Regions from separate parts of the Homo sapiens genome. Here regions 1 and 3 are each linked to region 2. The links come from fine-mapping of genetic effects on gene expression. A gene starts in region 2. Each other region holds a variant in brackets. All regions are shown on one strand. Distances are between the middles of the regions. Region 1 overlaps AVEN (apoptosis and caspase activation inhibitor). Region 2 holds the start of AVEN (apoptosis and caspase activation inhibitor). Region 3 overlaps AVEN (apoptosis and caspase activation inhibitor).

Region 1 (8,183 bases), 83 kb before region 2:
ATACCATATATATAATGAATATAAAATAATGATAAGAAGAAATTGTTTAGGAAAGACCATACTAGCACAGAGGAAAGTTTGATAAATAGACTCAAAGTAAAAATGTATCTTTACTGAGAAGATGCTTCTATTTCTCAGAGAAATCACTCTCAACTCCATCTGGAAAGCTGGATAAGACCAAGGCCAAACATTAATTTCCTAAATACTTACTATACACAATGTACCATCCCCACCCAAGTAAGCAGAGCTCTAGAGCTCAAAAATCCATTTGATTTCAATAGCAAGATGTATAGATTATTCAGGGTTTATGTGGCTGCAGTAACAAAAGATATATTTTAGAACAAAATTCTGTCTGGTCTAGCTTTAGAAATAAATCTGCGCCAAGGTGGATATATAGATAACAGCAGCTCACAAACAGGTGGAAATGATATTATCTTCAATAGCAAGATAAGTCAGCCTGTCTTCCACATCAAAAAGGGGAAAAAAAATCACTCCAGGTTCAAAGGTATAGATAGAGGGAGTTGGAGGAGGCAAAGCATTAGCAAAGAGAGCAATATACCTTGCAACCTATTCCCCAAACTATTAGAAGATGACTCCTAAATCTATCCTACTTTATCTGTCTAGATAGATGCTTATCCATAATTGGGACACCTGTAGTAACTTGGTTGCAGGAAATGAGAAATTAAGTCTCATCCACTGTAATTTCAGTATTTCTTCCCTTTCTGAGTCAGATACCAACATACTCAATGGCAATAAAATTACAATGATTCTCCAAAAAGATAGGAAACCGCATAAATAATGAAAGAGTATTACGTCTTTTTTAAAAACTGGCTCCCAAAACAGCATAAATGAAAAAATAGATATTAAATATGCATTTTTTGTAATAACTACACAACTTTACCTAATCTTCTGAGATTGTTGAACTAGATGTGGAACTGAAACTATCCAACTGAGGAAAACAGCATGGACAAGAATTTACCAATCAACCAATAAGTATGTCTGAATGCCTAATAGGGCACTATACGAAGACATCTACATATGCCCAAAACACCAAGTTGGACAGGCCATACACCCTTGTCCATAAGAGGCTAAAGAGAAAAAAAAAAAAAAACACTTCATTTCAACAACACATAGATCCCTAAGCATCCCAACATTTATATTAGAAAATAAGACTTTTCGTCTCAGGATACAAAATCAGTGTGCAAAAATCACAAGCATTCTTATACACCAATAACAGACAAGAGAGCCAAATCATGAGTGAACTCCCATTCACAAATGCTACAAAGAGAATAAAATACCTAGGAATACAACTTACAAGGGATGTGAAGGACCTCTTCAAGGAGAACTACAAACCACTGCTCTACGAAATAAAGAGGACACAAACAAGTGGAAGAACATTCCATGCTCATGGATAGGAAGAATCAATATCATGAAAATGACCATACTGCCCAAGGTAATCTATAGATTCAATGCCATCCCCATCAAGCTACCAATGACTTTCTTCACAGAATTAAAAAAAAAACTACTTTAAAGTTCATATGGAACCAAAAAAGAGCCCACATTGCCAAGACAATTCTATGCAAAAAGAACAAAGCTGGAGGCATCACGCTACCTGACTTCAAACTATACTACAAGGCTACAGTAACCAAAACAGCATGGTACTGGTACCAAAACAGAGATATAGACCAATGGAACAGAACAGAGGCCTCAGAAATAACACCACACATCCACAACCATCTGATCTTTGACAAACCTGACAAAAACAAGCAATGGGGAAAGGATTCCCTATGTAATAAATGGTGCTGGTAAAACTGGCTAGCCATATGTAGAAAGCTGAAACTGGATCCCTTCCTTATACTTTATACAAAAATTATTTCAAGATGGATTAAAGACTTAAATGTTAGACCTAAAACCATAAAAACCCTAAAAGAAAACCTAGGCATTACCATTCAGGACATAAGCATAGGCAAGGACTTCATGACTAAAACACCAATAGCAATGGCAACAAAAGCCAAAACAGACAAATGGGATCTAATTAAACTAAACGGCTTCTGCACAGCAAAAGAAACTACCATCAGAGTGAACAGGCAACCTATACAATGGAAGAAAATTTTTGCAATTTACCCATCTGGCAAAGGGCTAATATCCAGAATCTACAAAGAACTTAAACTTTCGAGAACTTAAATTTTCAAGAAAAAATCAAACAACCCCATCAAAAAGTGGGCAAAGGATATGAACAGACACTTCTCAAAAGAAGACATTTATGCAGCCAACAGACACATGAAAAAATGCTCATCATCACTGGTCATCAGAGAAATGCAAATCAAAACCACAATGAGATACCATCTCACGCCAGTTAGAATGGCGATCATTAAAAAGTCAGGAAACAACAGATGCTGGAGAGGATGTGGAAAAATAGGAACGCTTTTACACTGTTGGCAGGAGTGTAAACAAGTTCAACCATTGCGGAAGACAGTGTGGCTATTCCTCAAGGATCTAGAACTAGAAATACCATTTGACCCAGCGATCCCATTACTGGGTATATACCCAAAGGATTATAAATCATGCTACTATAAAGACACATGCACACGTATGTTTATTGTGGCACTATTCACAATAGCAAAGACTTGGAACCAACCCAAATGTCCATCAATGATAGACTGGATGAAGAAAATGTGGCACATATACATCATGGAATACTATGCAGCCAGAAAAAAGGATGAGTTCATGTCCTTTGCAGGGACATGGATGAAGCTGGAAACCATCATTCTGAGCAAACTATCACAAGGACAGAAAACCAAACACCATATGTTCTCACTCATAGGAGGGAATTGAACAATGAGAACACTTGGACACAGGGTGGGGAACATCACACCCCAGGGCCTGTCATGGGGTGGGGGGAGGGGGGAGGGAATAGCATTAGGAGATATACCTAATGTAAACGACGAGTTAATGGGTGCAGCACACCAACATGGCACATGTATACATATGTAACAAATCTGTACGTTGTGCACATGTACCCTAGAACTTAAAGTATAATAAAGACTTTTCAATCTGCATCTAGTCCCACAAACTCAACTCTTCTTAACTAAGATAAATAATATCTGAGTTATCAATATCAACATTTTCTCAATCATTAGATTTTCTACCCAGAAAAGTCCTTGAAAGGGCCACTGGAAGGTACCAAATGGCTATCTTTCTACAGCTTTGCACTGGAGTGAGTACAGGACATTTTGGATAATGCCCATCTGTACAAGAATTCAATATAAAATAAGCTTGCTTTTCAGATACCATAAAGAATACTATCTATCTGACACCACAGTATTGTCTTTTTTGTTTTAATTTTTTTAAAATGTAATCTATAACCTTAAGTGTCAGAAAATACTATACAATCTTTGCTGGTCAATATTCAAAGTATTCTATTAGGTGTACTTTTTTCCCTTAATCTTTTGTCTTAGTGACTCAAGGAACTATTGAAATATATTTGGGCATAGGGTTGAATTTTAAAAAAAAATCTAGATAGCAACCAAATTGTGAGTGAGAAGGAAAATGTAAATCAAGTTAACTTGTTGGTTTGAACATGTAATTACATTCTTCTTTAGGAATGTAAGCAAACAAGAATATCATTAAATATTTGGTGCTCTATTTGCCCCTAATATGTATAAATCTGCAGGCATAATCCACAACGTACAACGCTTAAAACTATAATGTACCACACAGAATTATAACGTCCTAGACCAAAAGGTATCTCAAGCAGTTATCTATTTACCTCCAATACTAAGCTAGTCAGGAAAAATGATAGTTTCATTTTAAAGAGTATTATGAATTTTAGAATTCTGAAAATAAAATGAGTGATGAGGCAGAAGTCATAGGAAGATAAGAAATGTCGGGGGGATGGGAATTAAAAAGAAAAGCACCATTCTGTTAAATTACATGCATTACTTGCTTTTCCAAAATTAAACACTAATAGTTAATCTCTCTCCGAATCAGTTACTTATGCTACCTTTGCAACCAAAGGGAGACACAAGCATGACTGCACATTTTTGTCCTAAGCATTCAGTGATGTAACGTAATTCACCATAAGAAAAGCTACAAACAGCAATAAGCAGCTAAACCAGTAGAGATGTGTTTCATGTATTCAGCATCTTCATATATATTCTCCAAAAATTAAATTTAAGACAACTGAAGAATATATCTTTAAACTATAATTTGTTAAGAGTGTTAAATTTTCATTCCATTAAAAATTCTATTTTAATGCTTCCTTAAATGGAAAATGCTGGGAATAATGTGACCTTTTGGGGTAAGTGACTCCCT[C/T]GGGCTGTTATCTGTAGGGCCGTCTGCCTCCGCGGTGACCAGCATTTGTAGTTATTGCGTGTAGCTATCTAGTTTCCCTGCTTCTCCCATGACACTAGAGCGCCAGCTGTCGCTCCTTGCTAAAGTCAACACGCCTGCCCCTACATTAGCTCACCTGTCCTGCTCTAATGTGCTGGCCCTACCTTTCCCATTTCCATCTCCCCGCTCCTCCAATTCCCCTCAACTTGAAATGCCCTTCTTCTCCAACACTGCGCATCCTCACTCTTGCCAGTGCAAAGTCTAATCAAACTTTCTGATCTGTCAATCTGATAACTGAAAATATGTATTTCAGTGTAATTAATTTGCATCTCTCCTATGAGTGCATTGAGCATCTTTTCACATGTTTAAGAGCCATTTGCATTTCATTTTCTGTGAACAGTCTGCTCATAGCCTTTGCCCAGTTTTAATAGGGTTGTTAAAACACATCATATATATTGGAAACTAGTTCTCTGTAATGAGTCACCATCCTATCTCCCCTGCCCACACACACATAATCATTTATCTTTTGGCCTTGGTTATGGTGGGTTTTGCCATGCAGAAATTCGTCACTTTTAGATAATCAGATTTAACAGCCTTGTATTTCTGGATTTTGTCCAATATTTTAAAACACCTTCCCTATTCTGACATTAGAAAAGAGTATGTCTATAATTTGTTCTAATATTTTTATTACATTAAGTTTTTGTTTTGCATTAAACTCTTTGGCACATGTTGACATCATCCTGATACGAGGTTTGAATACCAATTTTTTTCCCAGATGGTGAACTCCACTTGGACCAACACCATTTTCCTGACAAATCCATCTTTTTCCCCAGTGATGTGAAATGTTCGGGAGTTTTTTTTGGGTTTTTTGGTTTATGTCCTCATTGTCTGATATTTAGAATTTCTGGAAAAATAACATTCAGATAAACTAGGAGTAAGATAGTTTAGATTTAAGGCACTGCCTTGCACCTTCTTAAAGTTTAATAATTTGTTTTACCTGTGAGCTCCTCAGGAACAGTACTGGGAGCCACGTGCCCTTCTATGGCTAATATATGGTAAGTGCTTATTAACTGTTCTTTGAATGAATAATGAACTACATTTTTTAAATCTAAACATAGATTTCAATTCTCTTAGGATTTGGAAGAGTTCCACGGTCACTGTTATTTAGCCACACGTATATCCCAAAGGGTAACACTGCCAAGCTTCCTTGTCCATTAGAGACCTTTCTTCTTTGACAAAAAGTCCTTCAGTCTAGTCAATGTCTAGGATCTTCACTAGAGTCAATAAAAATTTAATCACAATTTGACTACATTACAACCACTATGGAAAACTATTTTGGCAGTTTCTTATAAAATTAAGCATAAATTTACCCTAGGACCCAACAATCCTACTCCTACGTATTTACCCAAGAGAAATGAAAACATATAACCACAAAAAGACTTGTATATTAATATTCACGGAAGTTTTATTTATAATATCCCAAAATTGAAACTAAATCAAATGTCTGTCAACAGGAGAAATGATAAACAAATTGTGATCTAGTCACATGATGGAATGCTAGTCAGCGGGTAAAAAGGAATAAACCCCATGCAACAACATAGGGGAATCTCAAAATCATTATATTGTATGAAAAAAAAAAAAGCCAGACATAAGCGAATACTGAATAATTCCATTTGTGCAGTCCAGGAATAGGCAAACTAATCACAGTGCTAGAAATCAGAACTGTGATTGCCTGGGGAGAGAGGCAAAAAGGGTGAAGAGGGCCTTTCTGGAGTGACAGTGGTATTTTATATCAGCAGTTTCCAAAGTGTGGTCCCTGAACCCAGTGGCACTTGGGAATTGTTAGAAAGTTGAATTCTCAGTCCTCACCCCAGATCTACTAAATCTGAAACTCTGAGTGGGAGTAGCAACTTACGGTCCGTCAAGCCATCCAGGTGTTTCTAATGCACACTAAATATTAAGAACCACTATTCTATAACTTGTTTGTAGAAGTGGTTACACAGGTGTACATAAATTGTCAAAGCTTATCAAACTGTTAAGATTTGAGCATTTTATATGTAAATTATACCCCAAATTTTAAAATGTGGATGAACTTTTCAAAATATTATCTTTAACCAAATCTGTCTTCTCCTCCTGTTTTCCTTACCTTGATAAATTGCAAAATAATTCACCTAGACGCTTGAATAATAAGAAAACTTCTTCTCGCCATGCACTGTGGCTCACGCCTGCAGTCCCAGCCCTTTGGGAGGCAGAGGTGGGTGGATCGCTTAAGGCCAGGAGTTCAAGACTGGCCTGGCCAACATGGCGAAACCCCATCTCTACTAAAAATACAACAACAACAAAAAAATCAGCCAGGCATGGTAGCACACATCTGTAATCCCAGCTACTCAGGTGGCTGAGGGAGGAGAATCACTTGAACTCAGGAGGCAGAGGTTACAGTGAGCCCAGATCATGCCACTGCACTCCAGCCTGGGCAAGACAGCAAGACCCTATCTCAAGAAAAAAAAAAAAAGGAAAAGAAAAGAAAGAAAACTTCTTTATACACTTTTCCCCATACAGCCAATCACATCTGCTAAATTAACCTTTGAAACATGCCTCTTCTTCATTCCTAATCCTCTATTTATACTCTTTCTAATCCCACCATCCTAGTTCAACAGGCACCTTTGTTTATTTTACCTGGTCTGGTAGAATAGCATCCAGCTCTCATTTTCCAATTCATCCTCTAAACTGCTAGAGCTATTTCTCTATGCCATAGGTGTGCTCGTGTCTTTTAGCTGCTTTTTTAAAGCTCACAGCTCCCCTCTATCTAGAGCATAAAATCTTCACTCCATAGTGGGGCACCAAAAACCTTTGGTGACCTGCTTTCAGCCCATCCTATCCAGTCTCCTCTCAAGCCATTGGTCTCCTCAGACCTGGCACCACATCAACATCAGCAGGGTCAAGATTTTCCCAATATGCCAAGCATATGCTTGCCTCTGATTCTTCACTCAAGCTGCTTCTCACGTCTAAAATTCCATCTTCCCAACTTCCCTGCATGGTGCAATCCTAGCTACCCTTTAGTATCCAGTTGAAACATCACCTCATTTGTGAAAGCTTCCTGTCATCAAACCCAAGGCAGAATTAATTACTCTCCTCTCTGACCTTACATTTTCCTACTAGATAGAATAATTACCTGTTTATGCCATACTTTTTTAAATACGAATTTCAGTCTTCAAGGACCTGAATGTGCAGCAGTTTTAGGTAATCTCTTCATATCACTTCCCTGCTTATGACCTTTCAATAGGTCCCTCTTGTCTACTAAACAAAGTTCAGATTCCTCAGCAGGAAGTCCAATCCAAGTCTACCTTCAGGCCCCTTAATGCCTCTTTAACCTCTCTCACTACTCCCTACACTTCAGTCATAGCCATAGCCCTCCGAGCACCACACTCTTGAACCCCCAGACTCTACCTAGGGGCAGAGGGAGGCCCCCTCCTCTCTCCACACCAGTGCCCACTCCCCAACCCCTCTAAAGACAGGTCATTAGGTTCAAGCACTAAGAATAAGCAACAAGAAAGGTCAGACACCAGGTGAACTGGAATGAGAACGAGGAAGAAGAGGAGGCAGAGCTGGTCCTTCTCAGCAAATGCTGGAGACATTATAAGGAGTAAAGCATGGTGTCTACCCTGGAGAAACGTTTAGTGGAGATCAGAAAGACATATAAACCAATTTCTACAACATGGAATGTGACAACAGAATGAATCCTATTACAGCAGAAAGGATATATATCAAATACACAAAGAGACACATATGCAAAAAAATGAAAGGCATGTCATGGTGAGATTTAACCAAAAATCAAAAACATCACTAAGCAG
Region 2 (8,183 bases):
AGAACTAATCTTAAAGCAATCTTCTGTTGGGACACTTAAGCACATTCAGTTTCTAACCAAATTTGCTTCAGGCTTTCTGGAAAAAAAGGAAAATAAAGTCTAGAGGCTGTCATTTCAGTTTGAGCTTTTAACAGGCTCTCAGTCTCTAGCTGGCTGACAAGCGGCTGGTGGCTACTCTGAGCAACAATGAAGGAGCAAGTCCTTAGACACCTGCCTGTAACTGATCTGACACCATTTCTTCCCTCCAGGTTCACACTAAACTTGAATAGAAAATTAGAGATTTCCTTTTTACCCAGTGAAATGAAAATGTCAACGCCATCGGGTATTAATTACTACTCAGGCTTTGTTTACAAAGCAAAAGTTTGATCAGAATTAAATGCCTCCAGATTCTACTTTTTAGTACAACTATAAACAGCTGTCTCATCTTTTATTGAATATAAATCATTTTAAAAGGAATATGAAAAGCTGCAATATAAACATGGAGCAAGAAAGCAAAGGTCTGGTAACACCCACAATAACTGAAGATGGTACCAATGTTACCTTAAAACCTTATAACCATACTAACATATCAGTTAAAAAAATAATCAGGCATGTGAAAGAATCACTCAACAGTCCTCCACACACCCCTTTTTCAAATCTCAAAGTCATTCCAGGAGCAGTTTAGAGCAGCAGTCGAAAGAACAGGCTCTGGAGTGAAAATGCTGGGGTGGAATCCAGGCTCAGCAATTTTCTGGTTGAGTGATATTAAAAAGTTATTTCACCTCTCCTAACTGTGAGTTATTTAACGGTGCCTCAGCTGTCTCATCTTATATTAAGTACTCGACAAATGTGAATTACTGTTATTACTAGAGGAAGGAAAAAAGAAAAAAAATTCCAAAGACTACCAGCTGGCCTTGTCTTCCTCTCTGCTAACAGCCCATCACAAAGATAAATACTAAACAATCCTAGTATTGGGGGCAGTGATAGGGGGATTATTTATTCATTTAGTTAGTAAGTTAGTTATTTGAGACAGAGTCTCACTCTATTGCCCAGGCTGGAGTGCAGTGGCAGGATCACAGCTCACTGCAGCCTCCACCTCCGGGGCTCAAAACAATCCGGCTGCTTCAGCCTCCCTTGTAGCAGGGACTACAGATGCACCCCGCCATGCTCGGCAGTTTTGTATTTTTTTTATAGAGAGGGGGTCTCGTTATGTTGCCCAGTCTGGTCTCGAACTCCCAGACTCAAGTGACCCACCCACCTCAGCCTCCCAAAGTGCTGGGATTACAAGCGCGAGCCACCACACCCAGCCAGTTTTGTGTTTTTTTTTTAAAGTTAATGATTGTATCTAGTACAATAATGCTTCTAGTGAGTATTCCGTGAAGATAATTATGCTCACCCATAATCAGTAAGCTTAGAGCTCAGACCATTTACAGAAGGAATGATTTAAGAGCAAGAGACTAAGAGATGTACTCAACTTAGTACTCAACTAAGTTACCCTGGAGTATTACATAGCTATGTAGAAGTTGGTTAGATTGATTTTGTTTTCCATTTGTATGCAGTGGTCCAAAATAGAAAGCAAAGGTGTACACAAAATTGGTTTCTGAAGGTGGACAACTGGTCTTTACATGGCTAGGAGTCTATTATGATTTTTTTTTCCTTTGATCATTTCGGTTACTCTCTCCTTGGGGCACAAATGCACCATGGGATATGAGAACAAGAAGGCTTCAGGAAAGTCAATCAATCTTGTCTCATGTAATGGTTAAGCACCAAAAATGGTGTCCTAGCAAGACTAAATACAAACAGTACTTCAGAATCTGAGAAATGGAAGGAACTTAGAGATGACCAATCCAAACCAAAATTAAGGAACAATCTGCCCAACATCCCTCCCTCCAGCTTTGGCTGAAAACATGATGATGAAGGGATAAGACCAACTCGACAAAAGAAAAAGCCTAAAATTTTAACAGAATGTGTTACAATACTATCTTAAATTTTTTAAAGTCTTGTATTATTCTTTCTTTTAATGATATACCATCATGACCAGGCGCAGTGGGTCACACCTGTAATCCATATCCCAGCACCTTGGGAGGCCGAGGCGGGTGGATCACCTGAGGTCAGGAGTTCGAGACCAGCCTGACCAACATGGTGAAACCCCATCTCTATTAAAAATACAAAATTAGCCGGGCAAGGTGGCTCATGCCTGTAATCCCAGCTACTTGGGAGGCTGAGGCAGGAGAATCACTTGAACCCGGGAGGCGGAGGTTGCAGCAAGCCAAGATCATGCCATTGCACTCCAGCCTGGGCAACAAGAGTAAAACTCCGTCTCAAAAAAAAAAAAAAAATATATACCATCATTTCACCCAATTTAATTCAACAGAGATTAACAAAACAGAAGCACCTTCACTCACTCAATTCAACTTAAAGACACTTATTAGTAAAGTCCTGTGCGCCAGACACCATAGTTAACACCAAATGTACCATTACTACAATTACTCTTAAAGCACGATCCCTGCAGCTAAGGAATATCTACTTTGTTCTCAATAAAGTGGTAACTGGTTCACGAAAAAGTAAGAGATAAAATACTGTTGACTCAAGGGCAGCTTGATATAAATCCCAGCTCTGCCACTAGCTGTGAAAGCTTAGGCAAGTCAGTTAACCTGTAAAAATAAAGATTACTCTCTATATATGGATATATAAATAATATATAACATTGTAGTTAATATATAATTACATACTATTATATTACATAATTCTACATTACATATATATTATATATATATAATAGAGTTATAAGAACAAAATGTGATATATAGTGGGCACTAGGTTGGTCTTAGTTTCTGTCATTTACCTTAGTTTCTGTCAGTTTACACGAGGTAAACTGACCCTAAAAATGTTTTTATATCTCATTCAAGTTTTGCCTATTACCTATCTTAATCCTAACAAGATTTAAGTTTGTTACATTTAAATTTAAGTTTTATACTTTTTTTTCCAGCTCTGTATTGCTGTATACAACTACTCTCTTTAGGGATATCTTATCTGCTATGCCCTCAAGATATTGTAAATACTTCAGTAAGAGCAAATTTTGCCTCATGCAAAAAAGAATTTTTTAAATCAGTGTGCATAAGAATGCAGAATATAAAGATGGTCTTGTCCTACAGATGTTAAGGTAACAGAACAACTCATAAAAAGACAGTCCTCTAACTCCTTTAGCTGAGATATGGTTAGCTTTGCCCCCATATATATCATCCCCTGCTCCAATCTCCAAAAACTTCCTTCTATGAATGTGTCAATAAGACTGATGATATTGCTATTAAAACTCAGAACTTGACTGCTCATTTATAAATTGAAAATTCAAAACGACAAAGCCCAGTGCTCGCTGATTTCTACACATACAGGCATAATAAAAGAGAACTACGCTATTACAAAGAACTATGCATCTGGTCCCGCCCCCAAATACTAGAGTCCAGTCGTAGGGGTCATTCTTTCACTCAACAAACTTTTTATTATGCGCCTACTGTGTACTAGGCATTGCACAGACAGTTAACAAAACAGACCAAAAAATCCTTTCCCTCCTAATAACAGGAGCGTGCCCGTAAAGGCTGCCGAGGGACCACGTCGTGGCCGCGCCTCCGTCCCATAGTGGTACTCGTACAGACAGCCCAGCCGGCCCACGGGCCGCCGAGACTTGCAGCCCTGACACACGGCCTTGGCCTCTGGGTTCCTAACCCGGACCCTGGGGCAGGCTGGGAAGCCCTCCTACCCCCACTGTCTCGCGCCAGCCCGGCCAGGAGGCCACGAGGGCCAAGCGCATACCCAGGCGCGCCCCCGCCACCAGGCGCGCCCCCGCGCCACCATCCGCCCGTCCCGCGCAGGCGCCGGCGCCGCCGCCCGTCTGGCGCGCGCCTGGCACGCTCTCTTGCGGCTCTTGACTGGCGGCCTCGGCCCCACTTGCCCCAGTTACACGCGGTCCCAGCCCCACCAGCCGTCGCCTCTTACCGGCGCGCTGGCCCCTGCGCCCCAGCCTCCCGGCTCCCGGCGGCTGCCTCGCGGGGCGCCTCCTCCTCCTCGGCCTCCGCGAGCGCCGCGGAAGCCCCGGCCACGGCCACGGCCCCGGCGTCCGCCTCCGTCCCCGCCGCCGCCTCCGCCGCCGCCTCTGGCTACCGCCGCTGCGGCTCCGGGCCGCTCGCTGTGGCGATCTCCGCCAGGCCGGCCGCGGCCTGGCCGCCGCCCACGGCCTCCCCGAGCTCCTCGCTCCGCCTGCATCTGGCCGCCGCTGGCGGTGCTGAGCGCGCGGGAGCCGAGCTGCGGCGGAGACGCCCTGGCCCCACCGGAAGCGGGCCGCACGGAGGAGCCGCGAGCGAAAGGCGCCCGGTAGCAGCGAGGCGCGGGGTGCGGGGCTAGGGATCGAGGCCGGCCGCAGCGGAGCGGGGCGGGGCGGGGCGGCCGGCGTCCCGCAGGTGGGGCCGGAACCGGGACCGCGGGAAGGCCGGACCGCTGGGAGCTGGAAGTGGTGGGGGTCTGCAGCGGGGCGGGGGGATTCTCAAGGCATCAGAGATAGGTTGGGGGAGAGACCGTGCTAAGTGCAAGGACGAGTCATAAAATAAAATTTGTATGATGTGAACTCTCGGAAAAAAAAAGTTTAAACGTATGTATTTGCATAAGAAAAGGTCTAAACAAATACATACTAAAATGTTAGTGGTTAACTGCTGAGATTTGAAGTGAGTTAATTTTTTTTCCTCCGTTTAATCTAATTTTCAGCAACGAATGTGTATCATTTTAAAACTATACCGAAGTCAGGGTTCAGGAGGTGTGGATGTAAAGACAAGAGTTTGTGTCTGGTGAGAGGTGGACTGCAGCACGTGGGAGAGAGAACAGTGCGAAACTGGGAGATGGCTAGAAAGGGCGTCAAAGTCCTCAGCAGAATTTCTGTAGAAATGACTACTACAGCTGACATTTATTGAGCACATGAGTATTTCATTCTCATAACAGCTCTATGAGGTAGGGATGACTGTCATCCTTATTCTGCAGTGAGGTAACAGCCTTGGAAAGGTTAAAAAAAACTTGACTAAAGTGAATAACTAGGTAGTGGTGGAACTGGCATTCTAAGGCGGTCTCACTCCAGTCCCTTCTTTCAACCAAGGAGAAAACAGGAAGGGGAACAGTTGGTTACACAGATGCATGAAAGCAGTTTTTAACTTGGGACTGAAACCACCTGAAAATAATGAAAGCAAGGGCTAAAATGTCAGCCTAGCAGAATAAGTGTTTTCTTCCCCCTCAGTACTTTCTGGTTCTTTCCTATATCCATACATAGTTAATACTTTTCATTGCTTCTAATTGCCTACTCTGCATCAGGCACAGTGCTATGTCCTGAAATTAAAAACAAAAACAAAAAAAAAACCTTGCCCCTGCCCTCAAGTAGCTCACTGCCCACAAGGAAGATAATCTAGTCGTGTGAATAGATGATTACAGTACCGTGTTGCTGAGTGCAGTGAGAGATTCAAGATCAAGGTCCAAAGAAGAAAAGTTAAATTATATTTAAACGGGTTACCCAAGGCTTCATGAGAAATAGACCCCTGAGCTAAAGCCTAATGGTTGAGTAGGAGTTTGCCTGGTTGGTAAATGGGAGTAGGGGCGCCTTCCAGACAGGGGGAACTATTGAAGGATTGTCAACTCCAGAGAAACAGTCTTAAAAATAGTAACACTTGTAGAGCACTTATATGCACCAAACACTATTCTACATACTTCTCATATCACTTCATTTGGGACTAATAGCTGGCCTACGAGGTAAGCTAGTGTTGTCTCCATTTTACAGATCAGGAATCTAAAACAGATGTTAAGTAACTTCCAAGATTACACAGTTACAGGCCAGGTGTGTGGTTCGTGCCTGTAATCCCAGCATTTTGGGAGGCTGTGGCGGGTGGATTGCCTGAGACATGAGTTCAAGATCAGCCTGGGCAACATGGTGAAACCCCATTTCTACAAAAATTAGCTGGGCATGGTGGTATATGCCTATAGTCCCACTACTTGGGAGGCTAAGATAGAGAATCATTTGAGCCCAGGAGGTTGAGGCTGTAGTGAGCTGTGATTGTACATGGGCAACAGAAGGAGACTGTCTAAAAAAAAAAAAAAGATTTCAACATGAATTTTGAGGGAGATGAACATTTAGACCATAGCAGTGGGGAAGGGGCATGGAAGAATATGGTTAAATATCTACCAGCATATCACTGGTCTGGCCTCTCACCAAGTTGAAGATCCACACATTAATCTCAAACTAGACATTTGCACAAATCGGAGTTTCTCAATGTTGGCAAATTTAGGGCTGGGTAACATTTTGTGGCGGTAGCTTATCCTGTGCATTGTAGAATATTTAATAGCATCCCTGGCCTCTACCCACTAGATGCCAGAATGAACCCCTCTCCCCCTCATTAAGACAACCAAAAACATCTCCAGACATTGCCAAATGTTCCCTGAGAGGCAATCACCCTGGATGAGAACCACTAGCACAGATAGATTGGTGCAAAAGGTACGTTTTAGTATCTAAGGAGCTACCGATGTAATTTATCCAAAAATTTATCCAGCCTTAAATTTGCCAACATTGAGAAACCCTGATTTGGGCAAATGTCTGGTATGAGATTAATATGTACATCTCCAATGTAGTGAGAGACGAGACCAGTGGGAAATAGGGCTTTAAGGAACTATATAACTATCCCTTGAGAAGCCTCCAAAATTATGAGGTTGAAAAGATCAGTGGCTTGCAGATTAAGCCAGTGTTATTAGGGCACATTCACTATGCTTGATACTTTCAACTAGTCAGTGTAAGACTCAGTAACACTTTTGAAAGGTATGCCATTTTAGAGAGAGATTGGTTTGTGGATGATGCCAAGTTTTTTTAACACTTATTTTGCACCTGATACTATTCTAAGCACTTTCCACGTACTAACTCATTAAATCTTCAAAATATCCCTATGAAATAAACACTATTATTATTCCTATTTTACAGATAAGAAAACTGAGTTGCAAAAAAGTTAAATAATTTGCTCAAGCTAGTAAGTAACAGAACTGGGATTTATACCAGTACAGTCTAATTCCAGAATCCATGCCTGTAAGTCTATTCTGCAGATGCCCTCAGAAGTCCGGGGGTATGTTACTCTCCATCTGTTCATTCAAGGCGTATCTTGTTTTTCTCAATTCAACCAAGAGTGTTTAGGATAGGAAAATTCTGAGGTCCCCCTTCTAGCACTTCCTAATTAGCGGACACAACTAGCCAAAGTTCTTTCAACAAGGATACGGTATATGCTGTCCTCGTGTGATTCTGGTCCAAAAATGTGTTATTAAGGTTTAAAAATACCACACAAGTACCTCCTGCATTTTGAGCAACCAGAGACCTTTGGATTGCATAAATAACAAAGGGAAGGAATCTTTTCTGGTATTGCTTTTGCTTGATAGTCCTGATTTTAAACATATGCCATTGCATGAATAAAAAATTCAGTTTTCCCTTAGGTAGGACTCATGAGAATTCATGAGTATCAAAACCAAAGTGCTGAATTATATAGGTAGCTCCTTAGAAACGAAACTGTACTTTTTGCATATTTTTAATACATACATGACCTAAGTTTTTTTTTTTTTTTTTTTTTGAGACGGAGTTTCGCACTTGTTGCCCAGGCTGGAGTACAATGGCGCAATCTCAGCTCACCACAACCTCTGCCTCCCAGGTTCAAGCGATTCTCCTGCCTCAGCTTCCTGAGTAGCTAGGATTACAGGCATGCACCACCACGCCCGGCTAATTTTTTTGTATTTTTAGTAGAGACGGGGTTTCTCCATGTTGGTCAGGCTGGTCTCAAACTCCCGACCTCAGGTGATCCATCCGCCTCAGCCTCCCAAAGTGCTGGGATTACAGGCAACAGCCACCGTGCCCGGCAACCTAAGTTATTTTTTAAATAAAATGGTAGCCAATTCCTTAAGGTAGTTGTTCTCAAAATGTAGGCCAGAAAAATAGCATCACCTGGGAACTTGTTAGAAATGCAAATTCAGAATTAAAACTCTGGGGATGAGGCCCAGTAATCTGTGTCTTAATAAACCTGCCAGTTGATTCTGATGCATCCTCAACTACTGTGTCAAGGTAGCATCTGAGCCTTCAAACATCACAAGAAACCCAGTAATTCCTAGTCTAAGACTATGGATTGGCCAGGCGCGGTGGCTCACGCCTG
Region 3 (8,183 bases), 43 kb before region 2:
ATGTCTAGATTGAATGTTTGCTGAAATTTTGGGATGACTTAGATAATGTGACCTGTAGAAAGCACCCACATATCCTTTTCTCAAATCATGGGGAAATAAAATGGATACACTTTATCAGTAGAGCAAAAGAGAGATTAATTCTATGTAAGAAAAAAGCTAAAGAAACACTAAATAAAGCAGAAGCAGCCAGCAATTGTAACCTATGACTAAGAAACAAGGAAGAGATGTGGAAATTACTAGACAGAAAGGTAGAAAAAGAAACACTGAAAAAAACTCATGCAAAATCACCAAGAATCTCTAAACAAATGAGAATCAAAAGGTCATAGATTTAAAGGAAAAAGAAAGGGAAATAAAGCTGCCTAGGCTGGATCTGCTAAAGGAAATGCACAACTTCAGGGCAGGAAAATGATAGTTCAGGATGATGAAAATGATGCAGCTGGACCAGCAAAAACAAAGAATTGCTTCAAAACAACAGAAAACACAAAATGGCGCTGGAGACTAGCAGTTTAGCACACAAATTCTGCTCTTATCTTTTGAAGGTTTTTAAAAAGAAAATCAGGCCGGGCGCGATGGTTCACGCCTGTAATCCCAGCACTCTGGGAGGCCAAGGCAGGGGGATCACGAAGTCAGAAGATTTGAGACCATCCTGGCTAACAAGGTGAAACCCCGTCTCTACTAAAAAAATACAAAACAGTTAGCTGGGCGTGGTGGCGGGCACCTGTAGTCCCAGCTACTCGGGAGGCTGAGGGAGGAGAATGGCGTCAGCCCGGGGGGCGGAGCTTGCAGTGAGCCGAGATTGCGCCACTGCACTCCAGCCTGCGCGACAGATCAGGACTCCGTCTCAAAAAAAAAGAAAAAAGAAAATCAAATTAGGCCCAATATTCAATATTCAGCTACAAGGAAAAGTTTTTTTGTTATCGGAGTTTTCCTTGTTTTTATTTTTTTGGTTATCCAATTGAAAATTTTTTTAGCCCTGTCAGCCAGAACAAATTTTTTAATTTATAGTTCTGTTTGTGTTATTTCAGATGTTTTAAATATCAAAGGGAAGAATCTTCTTCTACTATATTGCCTTTGTAATATGAGACTATATTGGCACAAACTATATACCATACAAGAAGAGGGAAAAAAATGAGCTGAATCAATGAGGACAAATAAAACTGTCTTGTTGCCTCATGGAAAGAAAAGGTTCGAGGTTTAATTTAAAAGTACAGGCTGCTAGAGTAATATCCTTTCTTTTCCCTTCAGTCTAATTGTTGGCACAAGGAACAGAGGAGGGAAGAAATTCCAATGTCATTACAATTAAAATTTCCTACCCAAAATAGCTTTTCATAAAATTAAATTGAAGAAAATATATAATAGTTTTAAGCAAAAATATGCACAGACAACAACTATACTGACCAAACTGCAGTCTGGTTATTTCGTTTTTATTTGTATCTCTAAAAATAGTGTTTACAGACTTGCACATAATATTTTCCCCACGTTTTCTTCAATATTGATCCAGTGCATTCTGCTCACACTGTTAAACATTTTTCTAACTCTGGCTATCTGTGACATCTTGAAAGGAACAGACAATGCATATTGCATGAATTCAATGATTTGACTTTTGGGGAAAAAAAATGAAGGGCAGAAGAAATTTCTCATAGATCTTACTTTTTACGTTTGAAGGTAAGAGTGGGGTGCCATTTTCAAAGCTCTTGAAACGTAACTTAGAACTGCCAAGAATACTGTTCAAAAAGAAAAGCCAAAGGCATGATTATCTCTTTCAGAGACTAACAGAAAGAGTTCTACAAAGACACCTAAAGACTCACAATCTTACCAGAAAAAGTATGACTTTGAACAACCGTCCCCTTTCCCATATCCACCACTAATAAAAATGAGAGTGTCACTGTCAGTGGTCAGAAACAAACAGAGCAGGCAATGCCCGTGTGGCACAAGTGGAAGGAGGCAGGCTGGAAAGGGCTGCCTCTCCAAAAATGGTTCCCACCTCTATGGTGGTAACAGAAATTTTACCATTAGAAATCCACTTTTAAAGAGTTTTATTCCTTTTATAAAGAGATCTGTAAAATAAAAAATTGATAATACATATGAGCTTATAGAATAATTATTAAACCAACATAAATAACAATCATCCAGGCCAGGAAATAGAATACTGCCAACACCACACCTGCTACCGGGCCCTCCTCAATCATTACACCTCATCTCCCCACTAGAGGTGACCGCAATCATGATATCTGGAATAATCATTTCCTTGATTGTCACTTTAGTATTTAAATATACATCCTTAAAAAATAGGGTTTTTTTTTCCTGTGTTTGAACTTTATATAATAGAATCATACTAACGAATTCTGTGGGCATGTTTCTTTTACTTCATGCTATGTTGAAAAGATTCATCCACTTATTTAAGTATTCATTCCACTATTAATGAATATTTGCGTTGCTTCCATCTGAGGCTCTTCTGAACATACAGCTGTGAACATTTGGGCACACACGTGCTGGAGTTTCTCTAGAACAGGGGGTCCCCCACCCCCAGACCATGGATCAGTACCGGTCTGTGGCTTGTTAGGAACCGGGCTGCATAGCAGGAGGTGAGTGGTGGGCAAGTGAGCAGATTCTTCTCTATTTACAGCCACTCCCTACTGCTTGCATTAGTGCCTGAGCGCCACCTCCTGTCAGATCAGCAGCAGCATTCGATTCTCATAGGAGCCAAACCCTATTGTGAACTGCACATGCAAGGGATCCAGGTTGCACGCTCCTTATGAGAATCTAAGGCCTGATGATCTGTCAGTCTCCCATCATTCCCAGATGGGACCATCCAGTTGCAAGAAAACAAGCTTAGGACTCCCATTGAGTCTACATTATGGTGAGTTGTATAATTATTTCACTACATATCACAATGTAATAATAATAGAAATAAAGCACATAATAAATGTAACACGCTTGAATCATCCTGAAACCGTCATCCTCACCCTGGTCTGTGGAAAAATTGTCTTCCACAAAACCGGTCCCTGGTGCCAAAAAGGTTGGGGACCTCTGCTCTAGAGTATCCTTTAAGGGTGAAAGTGCTAGATCTTCAGTTTTATCAGAAAATGGCAAACTATCTTCCAAAGTGAGCATCGACATATACATACAGTGTGTGTGAAATAGAAATTCACTTTTTAATTACAAGTCTTCAAAAATTCACTGTTACAATGGAAATCTACTTAGAGAATATATGTTAAGCTATATTCTCTACTCTTGAAGTTCTATATTCTCTACTCTTAGATAAAGGTGTACTCTTAGATAAAGGTCTATCTTCCAAATAACATTTGAGAATTGGACCAGAGGTCCAGCTAATTTGGGAAGAAAAAAATAACATACAGGCAACCATCCACATTGGTAGATTTAACCAACCATAGATCAAAAATATTTTTTAAAAATAAAAAATAATAATACTGGCCAGGCACAGTGGCTCACACCTGTAATCTCAGCACTTTGGGAGGCCAAAGAGAGAGGATCACTTGAGACCAGGAATTCAAGACCAGCCTGGGCAACACAGCAAGGTCCTGTCTCTACAAAAAAATGAAGAAATCAGCCAGGTGTGGGTGGCACACCTCTATAGTCCCACCTACTCAGGAGGCTGGGGCAGGAGGATTGCTTGAGCCCAGGAGGTCAAGGCTGCAGTGAGCTATGATCATGCCACTGCACTCCAGCCTGGGTGACAGAGGAAAACCCTGTCTCTCTAAAAATAAATGAATAAAGAAAATTATTTTAAAATAACAATACAACAATAAAAATACAAATAAAAAATAATACAGTATAACTTTACATAGCACTTACATTGCATTAGATATTATAAGTGATTTAAAGATGATTTAAAGTATATAAAGGAAGGTATCTATACTTTTTGCATAGGTTATATGCAAATATTTTGCCATTTTATATCAGAGACTTAGCATTCCTAGATTTTGGTATCCACAGGCGTCCTGAAACCATCCCTCTTGGATACCAAGGGAAAACTTTTGAGTCCTTAAGTCCTCAAAAGCAATTGCAACAAAACCAAAAATTGACAGGTGGGACCTAATTAAACTAAAGAGTTTCTGCTCAGACATTTTTCGAAGTTACTGAAATGACTAAATGAATCAGATGCTTCAGACCACACCAAACTGCAGGTCATAAGCCATTAGTGGGACATTATATCATTTGGGTTTTTAAAATGCTGCTGCAGCTCCCAGCGTGATCAATGCAGAAGACAGTGATTTCTGCATTTCCAACTGAGGTACCTGGTTCATCTCATTCGGACTGGTTGGACAGTGGGTGCAGGCCACGGAGGGCGAGCTGAAGCGGGGCGGGGCGCTGCCTCACCCTGGAAGCGCAAGGGGTCAGGGGATTTCCCTTTCCTAGCCAAGGGAAGCCATGACAGACTGTACCTGGAAAATCTGGACACTTCCGCCCAAATACTGCGCTTTTCCAACAGTCTTAGCAAATGGCACACCAGGAGTATATCCCACACATGGCTAGGTGGGTCCCACACCCACACAGCCTTGCTCACTGCTAGCGCAGCAGTCTGAGATAGACCTGTGAGGCAGCAGCCTGGCAGGGGGAGGGGCGTCTGCCATTGCTGAGACTCGAGTAGGTAAACATTGTGGCTGGGGAAGCTTGAAGTGGACAGAGCCCACTGCAGCTTAGCAAGGCCTGCTGCCTCTGTAGACCCCACCCCTGGGGGCAGGGCATAGCTGGACAAAC[G/A]GCAGCAGAAACTTCTGCAGACTTAAACGTCCCTGTCTGACAGCTCTGAAGAGAGGTGTGGTTCTCCCAGCACAGTGTTTGAGTTCTGAGAACCGACAGACTGCCTCCTCAAGTGGGTCCCTGAACCCCATGTAGCCTAACTGGGAGACAACTCCCAGTAGGGGCCGACTGACACCTCATACAGGCGGGTGCCCCTCTGGGACGAAGCTTCCAGAGGAAGGATCAGGCAGCAACATTTGCTGTCCTGCAATATTTGCTGTTCTGCAGCCTCCGCTGGTGATACCCAGGCAAACAGGGCCTGGAGTGGACCTCCCACAAACTCCAACAGACCTGCAGCTGAGGGACCTGACTGTTAGAAGGAAAACTAACAAACAGAAAGGAATAGCATCAACATCAACAAAAAGGACATCCACACCAAAACCCCATCTGTAGGTCACCAGCATCAAAGACCAAAGGTAGATAAAACCACAAAGATGGGGAGAAACCAGAGCAGAAAAGCTGAAAATTCTAAAAACCAGAGCGCCTCTTGTCCTCCAAAGGAACGCAGCTCCTCGCTAGCAAGAGAACAAAGCTGGATGGAGAATGACTTTGATGAGCTGACAGAAGTAGGCTTCGGAAGGCTGGTAATAACAAACTTCTCCCAGCTAAAGGAGGCTGTTCGAACCCATCGCAAGGAAGCTAAAAAGCTTGAAAAAAGATTAGATGAATGGCTAACTAGAATAAACAGCGTAGAGAAGACCTTAAATTACCCGATGGGGCTGAAAACCATGGCACAAGAATGTAGCAAACAATAAAATGTAACATTCTTCAGGAAAAAAAGCAAAATTAGAACTTCTAGAAAATATAGGAGAACATCTTTAACCTTGGGAGAAAGATGGATTTCTAAAGGCATAAAACAGCATAAACAGTAGGATAGAAAATTGATAAATTCAACTAAAATTTAAAACAATGCACTGAAAGACACACTATAGAAGTGAATCTCATATCAGGAGATACCTGCAAACACAAATATCAAAAGATAAGTATCAAGACTACTTTTTTTTTAACCCACAAATCAATAAGAAACAAAATAGCCAAATGGTCAAAGAATGTGAGCAGCAGTTCACAAAGAAAGCAAGCACCACAAATACAAAGATGTTCAACCTCAGTAATAACTAAGGAAATGTAAACTAAAAACTCCAAAGACGAGGTCTCCACACCAACTCACAGCCAGGCACACCCGTATTTTTATATAAGACTATATCATTACCGTCATCCGCAACCCCCTGCCCCACCAAATCTCAACGTCAAACATTCTAATCTACAGCCACCACTTCCCACCTCTCCAACTCACACTTTCTCAAGAAGGTCAATAATCCTTCTGCCCTGAAAAAATCTGTAGTCCTGTGATCCCAATATCTTTTTACTGCCCCTCATCTTCTCTCATATCTTCACTTATTTCCTTATCCCACTTAAATTCATTTCAATCATTCTAATCATCTCCTTTTCCCTCTCTCATTTCATTGCATTTGCTCTGCTAAACTGTAATCATGATTAAGTCCTACCCTTCCGTCCGGTCTTTCTGGGCCTGCACCCATACAGCACAATATGAGTCAGGGAAAAGTATACCTGTTCTCACCTTAAATTTATGAATACCAACTTCATGTGGGCCCCTATTGTCACCCAACATCTATACCACATTTTCCTACTTGGAAAATAGGAAACTATACTTTCCCACTTCCTTGACAACTATTTCTTACCTTCTGCTCTCTCCTTCCACTTCCAGTACCTCCTCCACAACACTTATCCATGGTTTTCTTAGACCACTTCCTCAAGCCTCCATGACATCTACCCATCTACCCATATCTATGCCCATATATTCTGCCTTTCCTCCAATTACAGTTGGAAAACTGCCCAAGCCCCAGCAATGGGCCATCCCTCCACCTGCACAATAGATCCTATCAAGCTCATATCTACTAAAGAACACAGATCCAGGAATTCTCACCCCTCCCCTTATGATTTTTGTCCCCTTTTCTGGATCTATCAACAAGTAAACATGTAGTTATTTCTCCCACCTTTAAAAAAATGTCTTAACTGGCCAAGCATAGTGGCTGACATCAGTAATCCCAGGACTTTGGGAAGCCAAGGCAGGATTGTTTGAGCCCAGGAATTCGAGACCAGCCTAAGCAACATAAGAAGACCCTGTCACTACAAAAGAAATGCCAAAAAAAGAAAAAATTAAAAAGTCTTGACTCACTTCTCCCACCAGCCCATTATTCTCCTTTCCTTTATAACAAAACTCCTTAAAATTAAGTCATTTATACCTGCTGTCTCAAACATCTCTTCCCACATTCTTTTTAAATTCAAGAAAAAATTTATGCCACCACTCCAACAAAACTGCACTTGTGAAGATCACCAATAACCTTCCTGTTAAATTTAACAGTCAATTCTTCATTGTCATCAACTGCATTTGATACAGATCTCTCCTCCTGCTTCAAAACACTTAAAGACACTACACTCTCTGGTTCTTTCTTCTACCACTCATGCTCAGTCTCCTTTGCTGGTCTCTTCTCTTTCCCCTAAACTCTAGACACTGTGGTGCCTGGGAATCAGTACTTCTCTAGGTAATAACTCCCCCTGTCATCTCATACATTCTCACGACTTTAAATATCATCTATAGGCTGGCATCACCCAAATGTATTATTGCCAACCCAGGCCTGGATCCTGAACCCCACATTCCTCTATCCAGCAGCCTGCTCCATGTCGCCTATTAGATGTTGTGCTGGGTCTCTTCCATGTGCCAATGCAGATTTATCCTCCACCCTTCTCCAACCTGTTCTACCCTAGAAGGTTGACCAATATGGATTACAACTTCCCTTGTCTTCTGGCTTCCAGTAGGTTAGACTTATGGAAGCCTTGGCAGAGGGAGGAAGAGAATGTTTATTCCTCTGACTCTCTCAGAGTGGGGTCATCTTCACTGGCTGAGTCCCCTCACCGAAGGTGATTCATTCTCCCAAGGCCAACTCTCTATGACTCCCTTCAAATTTCCAGTAACTAGGGTGGTAACATCTCTGCCGCTACTTGCCCTCTCAACACAGCACTACCTCAGTGCTTTCATTAGACTCTACACATACCTTTGTAAATGATTCCTTTGTCAAAGTGTTCAATTATATTGAGTGTGCCAGCCATTTATTAAGGAATTCTGACTGCAACAGGTATCAAAGTGACATCTCACTTTTAATACATGCAACACTGGTACCTCCTATAACTTACACACCTCAGTTAAGGGCAACTCCCTTCTTCTCACTGTTCAGACCCAAAACCTAGTGTCATCCTTACGTATCTTTTTCTCTCATACCCAGCATTTGCAAGTGCTCTCTGCTCTTCTCTCTACGTAGATCTAACCCAACCACTTTTCACCACCTCCACTGCTCTCCTCTGGACCCAGCAACCACCACCGCTGCTTACCTGGATTATTATTA

What was found. PIP is the estimated chance that this variant, and not a neighbour inherited with it, causes the effect.
Region 1: its variant is the best candidate, but not a certain one, in a credible set for the expression of AVEN in whole blood (TOPMed, PIP 0.80).
Region 3: its variant is the best candidate, but not a certain one, in a credible set for the expression of AVEN in tibial nerve (GTEx, PIP 0.72).

The regions. Positions count from the first base shown.
Region 1 is chr15:33,951,763-33,959,945 of GRCh38, forward strand. The region is part of intron 2 of AVEN (apoptosis and caspase activation inhibitor); the gene reads right to left. Among named protein-coding and RNA genes, the nearest start is that of CHRM5, 13 kb to the right of the region's middle. The variant C/T (reference allele first, on the strand shown) is at 4,315.
Region 2 is chr15:34,034,808-34,042,990 of GRCh38, forward strand. AVEN (apoptosis and caspase activation inhibitor) reads right to left here and starts at 4,397. Exons shown (of 6, transcript NM_020371.3): 1 at 3,973-4,397. The coding sequence starts at 4,239. All of the region lies in intron 1 of CHRM5 (cholinergic receptor muscarinic 5), which reads left to right. RefSeq lists silencers at 3,370-3,429, 3,780-3,839, 3,930-4,139, 4,320-4,489.
Region 3 is chr15:33,991,547-33,999,729 of GRCh38, forward strand. All of the region lies in intron 2 of AVEN (apoptosis and caspase activation inhibitor), which reads right to left. All of the region lies in intron 1 of CHRM5 (cholinergic receptor muscarinic 5), which reads left to right. Among named protein-coding and RNA genes, the nearest start is that of CHRM5, 27 kb to the left of the region's middle. The variant G/A (reference allele first, on the strand shown) is at 4,723.